Linked DNA regions of Homo sapiens. The protein of the gene in region 1 purifies or fractionates together with the protein of each later gene. This does not show direct contact. Each region holds a gene or a part of one and is shown on either strand. Other genes may lie near its edges. The genes, in order: SELE and CEACAM5.

Evidence for each region.
Region 2: the proteins of SELE (region 1) and CEACAM5 purify together in Homo sapiens (co-immunoprecipitation; one study listed by IntAct). This does not show direct contact.

The regions. Positions count from the first base shown.
Region 1 is NC_000001.11:169,723,938-169,727,757, forward strand, and holds part of SELE (E-selectin precursor), read right to left. Parts: coding exon 3,802-3,820; intron 3,589-3,801; coding exon 3,412-3,588; intron 2,870-3,411; coding exon 2,762-2,869; intron 1,992-2,761; coding exon 1,970-1,991; intron 1,865-1,969; coding exon 1,807-1,864; 3' UTR 1,792-1,806; intron 573-1,791; 3' UTR 1-572. UniProt on the Homo sapiens protein: Cell-surface glycoprotein having a role in immunoadhesion. Mediates in the adhesion of blood neutrophils in cytokine-activated endothelium through interaction with SELPLG/PSGL1. May have a role in capillary morphogenesis.
Region 2 is NC_000019.10:41,715,027-41,718,846, forward strand, and holds part of CEACAM5 (cell adhesion molecule CEACAM5 isoform 1 preproprotein), read left to right. Parts: coding exon 1-223; intron 224-623; coding exon 624-878; intron 879-2,428; coding exon 2,429-2,707; intron 2,708-3,101; coding exon 3,102-3,356; intron 3,357-3,820. UniProt on the Homo sapiens protein: Cell surface glycoprotein that plays a role in cell adhesion, intracellular signaling and tumor progression. Mediates homophilic and heterophilic cell adhesion with other carcinoembryonic antigen-related cell adhesion molecules, such as CEACAM6.

The DNA.
Region 1 (3,820 bases):
TGTGCATAGTAACCCTCGCACAGAGCATTCAGTAGGATTTGCACCATTAACAACCCTCCATGCATTTGCCTGTGGGCATTCAACATCTGTCATTTTTTTAAGTTATAATATTTTTAGTCATTTTTTTCCTCTAAACTCTGGATAATTATTATTCATTCTTATGACAGCAACTGTGTAATCAGCTGTCGAAACACTGTGAAGGGCAAAAGAAAGAAAGCCACAAAATATTGTGTTTCTGTGCCAAGATTTTACAGCGAGCAAGGGAGAGTTAGAAAAGGAATTCTGAGATTTCAGAGTCTTGGTCTCTTCACCTTTGCTTGGAAGAAAATATCCTTTCCCTTCATTAGCCAACACTTTCTTGATCCTGAGAGTAGGAAAGGGAACACTGAGTCTTTTCAGTTGAAGGCCGTCCTTGCCTGCTGGACTTTGATCTATTGAAGTGGTGATGGGTGTTGCGGTTTCAGCCATAAAGGCATCTGGCATAGTAGGCAAGAAGGGCCAGAGACCCGAGGAGAGTTATCTGTCTCTGTTAACTTCAGTGTATCCCTCTAGTTCCCCAGATGCACCTGTTTCTGTAAATATAAACATGCATGTCATCAGAACACTTAATATTCTGCATACTGATCATGACAACAAAATGTACCTTCTAACACAGACACTCTCACTAGGATAGACCATGTAGGAACATCGAATTCTATTCAGTTAGGACAGTGATGATGTCTACATATTATACCTCTGTCAAAACCTACAGAATATACAACACAGCACAGAGTGAATTCTAATGTAGCCTGTGGACATTAATGAATAATAATGTATCAATATTGGCCCATCAGTTGTAACACTAATATAAGATGTTAATAACAGGGGGAATTGAAGGGGTGGTGGGGAGATATGTTGGAACTCTTTGTGCTTTCTGCTCAATTTTTCTGTAAACTTAAAACCGCACACACAAAAAAAGTTATTTTAATTTTTTAAAAAGTATTCAGAGGGACTTGACCTTTCCAAATTCTCTCAAAGCAGGTCGGAGTAGTTAAGAACACAAATTTTAGAACCAGACTGCCAGAGTTTGAATCCTGGCTACACCACTTACTAGCTTTGAGATTTCAGACAATTTACTTAACTTCTCTGTCTCATTTTCTTCATCTGTGTGATAAGAAATAAAGTAACAGGCCAGGCCCAGTGGCTCACGCCTGTAATCCCAGCACTTTGAGAGGCCAAGGCGGGTGGATCAGGAGTTCAAGATCAGCCTGGCCAACATGACGAAAAAATACAAAATCTCTACTAAAAATACAAAAATTAGCTGGGTGTGGTGGCAGGCACCTGTAATCCCAGCTACTCAGGAGGCTGAGGCAGGAGAATTGCTTGAACGCAGGAGGTGGAGGTTGCAGTGAGCCAAGATCATGCCACTGCACTCCAGTCTAGGCAACAGAATGAGACTCCATCTCAAAATTAAAAAAAAAAAAAGTAAAAAGAAAAGATAAGAAATATAGTACCAGCCCCTATCTCAGAGTTCCTAGCTTAGAAAAATTCCCAGAATATAATAAGTGCAATGTAAGGGTCAGCTATCTTCATTATTATTATCTATCATAAATGAAATTACACAATAAAGCTAGATCCGTTTCTTTCCTCTCCTTCTACAAAAAATAAAGCAACTTTCCAGAACAATACCCAGGTGATGATTTCTCCCCTGCTCCCTCCCTAAGATATTGGCAAGTTTGGAGGGTTCAAGGAGAAACAGAGCATGTAGAGAAGATACCTCTCTCATAACCATTTGTGATTTACAAGTCTTACCTGATTCTTTTGAACTTAAAGGATGTAAGAAGGCTTTTGGTAGCTTCCATCTGATTCAAGGCTTTGGCAGCTGCTGTGGAATACATGAGAACACTAGGTAAAGCACTGTCTTCCAACATGAAGAGAGAAAAATATGTGGAATGTTCAATGGCATGCTTTGTATAAGAATGCAACTTACCTGGCAGGAACAAATTTCTTTGCTGCAAAAGAAAAGACAAACAACCATTAATTCAGACTAAATGACTTTTAAGGATATATTAAATCCAGATACAATATGACTTAATTCATCAAGTGTTGCAAACTCGATGCTTCAGGGCCTCTGTAATAATCAGAGCACAAGCATGGCTCTGTGGCATCTAGGGTAAAATGCAAAGTGCACAGCCATCCAAAGGGCATAGCAGCTTCCTAATGCCAGCAAATAGCTACGGGGTCATCTTGCCCAATTCAGCTCCCAATTTTTCATGAGAAGTCCAAAGTCTTAATTTAAATGTGAGATTTCCTATTTTGTAAACGTCAGAACTTAACTCAAAAATGTTTTAAGTACTCTTAAACATGTAAGCCAAACAAACCATGAGTGTAGTCAGATGTGCTTCCATATTCCTTATGAGAGACTCTCAAATTTAAGCCTGTACTCCAAATAAATCTCCTTAGGAAGAATTTTATCCATTTTCCTTAGAGTGCTCATCATGGCAGTTCCATTGCACAATTCCGGGAGGCATCATATAATTCAACATGAATAGCACCCCCTGGAGTTGTACAATATTAGGCACGACTAACATTTTTATTTCCTGAAACACTTCCCACACTGAGTTGTACTACTAACTCTTTTCTTAATACTTCTGCTTAATTATACTGCATTTTATCCAGATTCTAATTATTGTTTAAATCAGTAAGCAAGACCATGACTTATCAATGAGAAAGAAATGTATTTTCAAAAACATTTTTGAAGTACATTCATAAACTTCCTCACCTTTCCGTAAGCATTTCCGAAGCCAGAGGAGAAATGGTGCTAATGTCAGGAGGGAGAGTCCAGCAGCAGAAAGTCCAGCTACCAAGGGAATGTTGGACTCAGTGGGAGCTAAGGAAGTAAGAGACGAAGAAAGGTCATGAGGAAGAATTGATGTTAAAGTCTCTCCGTCCTGTCCCTTTGGCCTTTTTTCTGTACATTCATTACTAGGAGCAGAAGAGCTATCTAGTTTAATACAAGAAGCAGAGATGTGGCATTACAGGCCTTTGAGATCTGCTCCAAGCCACCTTTGAAGCTATTTCCACCATTGGCAGGCAGAACTCTAACTTGCCAAGCTCGTTCACAATACCACACCACACCTTGGTTAATAAACACTGCACTTGCTTGCTCTCTTGCTCTCACTCCCTCTTGTTTTCCATTTCCCCTTTCTCCTCTCCTCTCTCTGTCTCCTTTTTCCAGTTGTCAGAATTCTACCCTTTCCATCAACATGCAACTTCTGTTTTTTCTCTATCCCCATACAACTTAATATTCACAACTTGTCAACCTGGGCGAACTTTCTGGTTTGGATATAATGAATAGTTGATTACTGTAACAAGATAGCTCCCCCTTTTTCTTTTTAATCACCAGACAACCACCATCAATCAATGCATCACCTTCACAGGTAGGTAGCAGGCCAGACCAGTGTCCTGTGGCTCCACATGTCCGAGCTGCAGAGCCATTGAGCGTCCATCCTTCAGGACAGGCGAACTTGCACACAGTGCCAAACACGGGCTCCCCACTGCAGCTCATGTTGATCTTTCCCGGAACTGCCAGGCTTGAACATTTTACCACTGCAAATGTTAGGTACACAGGCAGAGTTTCAGAAAAATCTACTGGAAAACTTCCAAAACTTGCTTAAAAGTCAACAATGAATGTAAAGTGTAAGCGCTACTTAGTTTTCAGCATGTAGGAAATTAGGACCAAACCCCTTTGGGGCAATCTAGGTTCAGAAACTTTATGAAGTATTTGACCTGTACCCTAAAAAAGTCTGCACTCAATTCTACCTTGGCAGGAAGGAACCTC
Region 2 (3,820 bases), on another chromosome or scaffold:
GATGCTGTGGCCTTCACCTGTGAACCTGAGACTCAGGACGCAACCTACCTGTGGTGGGTAAACAATCAGAGCCTCCCGGTCAGTCCCAGGCTGCAGCTGTCCAATGGCAACAGGACCCTCACTCTATTCAATGTCACAAGAAATGACACAGCAAGCTACAAATGTGAAACCCAGAACCCAGTGAGTGCCAGGCGCAGTGATTCAGTCATCCTGAATGTCCTCTGTGAGTATATCTGCTCCTCTCTGGCCCAGGCTGCCAGCCCAAATCCACAGGGCCAGAGGCAGGATTTCTCAGTCCCTCTCAGGTTCAAGTACACAGACCCTCAACCCTGGACATCCAGACTGTCTGTGACTTTCTGCCCCAGAAAAACCTGGGCAGACCAAGTCTTGACCAAGAATAGGAGGGGAGGGGCTGCTTCTGTCCTGGGAGGCTCAGGGTCCACACCCTATGATGGGAGAAACAGGTGAATATCTCAGACTCAGGCTCAGTAGATACAAGAGGGGTTTGGCTGAGACTTTAGGATTGTGATTCAGCTTAGAGGGACACTGTGGTCCTTCCATAGACCAGGAACTTCCACTTCCCTCTGACAATATCACCTGTGGCTTTATTTTGTTTGCTCCAGATGGCCCGGATGCCCCCACCATTTCCCCTCTAAACACATCTTACAGATCAGGGGAAAATCTGAACCTCTCCTGCCACGCAGCCTCTAACCCACCTGCACAGTACTCTTGGTTTGTCAATGGGACTTTCCAGCAATCCACCCAAGAGCTCTTTATCCCCAACATCACTGTGAATAATAGTGGATCCTATACGTGCCAAGCCCATAACTCAGACACTGGCCTCAATAGGACCACAGTCACGACGATCACAGTCTATGGTAAGTGGATCCACGAAGCACTGACATCATGTTTTGAGGTGGAGTCTGTCTGGTTTTCAAACAAGAGCCAGGAAGACATTTTCTATCCCAGCCTGTGTCCAGTGGGCACAAGCAAATCCCAGATTCTCCCACTGAACCTCCCCAATATGTCTCTACAGACTCTTTTCTTCTTGTTCTGATTTCTCATGGCGGGCCCCAGGTCCAGCTTGGAATGTGGGGAGGAGGCTCCCTCAGCCCCACAGCCCTGTGTAGTGGAGGAAGCTTCACAGAGCGGGAAGGAGCAAGGGTTCTCAAGGTCAAGTTGCTTCTCTCTGTCACCAATGTGTCCCTTTCTGTCACCTCTTTGTGTTCTTTTGCCTACTCCATGAGCTACAAGCAACATTCAAGGCTTTGAAACAAGCTCATACTTTTTTCCCAAATGAGAGAAGGAAGCCCCTTGGGTGAGGGAGACACAGCTCAGACTGCTCCCTGCTCTGCTCTGGGCTCCCCTGGGTGACTGGCCTTGCCTGACTCCACCTAGGTGGGAACGAGGTGTGTGGAGAAGGAGCCCGGGTGGTCTGTCCTGAATTCGGCTAAATCAAGCTGCCAATCAACACCAAAGCTTCCCTTCGTCCCAGTCAGGCTGCAGGAAAATGGAAAGAGAGGGAGCCTCAGGGCAGACTCCTGAGCTGCGTCCTGGCTCTGATGTCACCAGCTATATGAGGCTGTGGGCACAGCACATGGGACACAGCACAGGGGACAGCAAGTGACCCACACTTGGAGAAATCAGGAGATTCACCACAGGGGCTCTGCACGGCAGGGAATGGCAGTGTCAAAAATCGTGTGTTTATACAGATGGTAACAGTACATATCTAACACAAACTTACCATCTTAACTTTTCTACACATGCAGTTCAGTGGTATTAAATATATTCCCCTTGTTCTGCTTCCATCACCACCATCTACCCACAGGACTCTTTTCTTCCTCCCAAAATGAAACTCTGTTCCCATCAAACTCCTGGGCAGAGCTGCCCCATCTATGGCCCACAGTCTGATCCCTGACTTGTCACCTCTAGACATGCTCCTAGTCTCCTGCACTATTTCTGCTCAAACATCCATCTCCATCATCACCTATCTCTAGGATGTCCTTAAATAGCAAAGCCTCAGAGCAAACACAACTTGGCTGGGTGGTGTGGGACTGTGCAGCTGGAAGAAACGCAGCTCCTTCAAATTCCAGGTGAGGACCCCAATGGGCCAGGCAGCCAGCCAGTCAGGAAAGGACCAGAAGTGCTGGGGGCTGTGACCCCCAGCCCTGTGTCTGTCCACAACCCAATGCTACTGCCCAATTCACACTTGAGAAAGTCTGTGCTTCTCCCACACAAAACAGCCAGCCTCATGGTCTCTGAGCCCTCAGATCATTGTGCATCTGTCTTGTGACGCACACACACCTGCCATGAGCTTTTAAGGACTCAGTTGGGCTGAGAGGTGGGAGATGCCAACTCTGATTGATAGATGCCCGTGGAGGAATCACAGGTGCCACACAGGGCAATCTTCTCTCTGTTATCTGCACAGCAGAGCCACCCAAACCCTTCATCACCAGCAACAACTCCAACCCCGTGGAGGATGAGGATGCTGTAGCCTTAACCTGTGAACCTGAGATTCAGAACACAACCTACCTGTGGTGGGTAAATAATCAGAGCCTCCCGGTCAGTCCCAGGCTGCAGCTGTCCAATGACAACAGGACCCTCACTCTACTCAGTGTCACAAGGAATGATGTAGGACCCTATGAGTGTGGAATCCAGAACGAATTAAGTGTTGACCACAGCGACCCAGTCATCCTGAATGTCCTCTGTGAGTATCTTCTGTTCCTCTGTGGCTCAGGCTGCCAGCCCAAATCCACATAGCCAAAGTCCAGGCCTCTCAGTCCCTCTCAGGCCCAAGGACAGAGACTTTTACCCCTGGACATCCAGGCTGGCCCTACCCCCAGCAAATCCATGCAGGCCCAGTCCTGACCAAGAATAGGAGGGGAGGGTCTGCTCCTGTCCTGTAACACTCGGGATCCACAGCTAGTGATGGGAGAAACAGATGAATGTCTCAGACTCTGGCTAATTGGATACAGTAGGGGTTTGGTTAGGACTTCAGGATTGTGACTTGGCTCAGGGGGACACTGTTGCCCTTTCACAGACCAGGAGCTTCCCCTTTGCTCTGATGACATTCACCTGTGGCCCTATTCTCTTTGCTCCAGATGGCCCAGACGACCCCACCATTTCCCCCTCATACACCTATTACCGTCCAGGGGTGAACCTCAGCCTCTCCTGCCATGCAGCCTCTAACCCACCTGCACAGTATTCTTGGCTGATTGATGGGAACATCCAGCAACACACACAAGAGCTCTTTATCTCCAACATCACTGAGAAGAACAGCGGACTCTATACCTGCCAGGCCAATAACTCAGCCAGTGGCCACAGCAGGACTACAGTCAAGACAATCACAGTCTCTGGTAAGTGGATCCCTGGACCGTTAGCAATATGTTCTGGAGCGGAATCTGTCTGGTTTTCAGAAAAGAGCCAGGAAGAAATTTTCTTTCCTAGTATGCATCCAATGGGCACAAGCAATCCCAAATTCAATCCTGAGCACTCCCAATTTGTCTCTACAAACACTCTTCCCCTTGTTTTTCTGATTTCTCATGGCTGACCTTGTGTCCACCCTGAGAAATGTGGGGAGGGGTCTTCATCAGCCCTGAGCCCTATGTAGTGGAAGGGGCTTCACAGAGGGGGAAGCAAGAAGGGTCCTCAAGGTCAAGTTGCTCCTCTCTGTCACCAATATGTCCCTTTCTGACACCACTTTGTGTTCTTTTACCTAATCCATGAGCTACAAGGAACAACTGAGGCTTTGAAACAAGCTCACACTTTTTCCCCAAATGAGAGGAGGATGCCCCTTGGATGAGGGAGGAGCAGCTCAGAC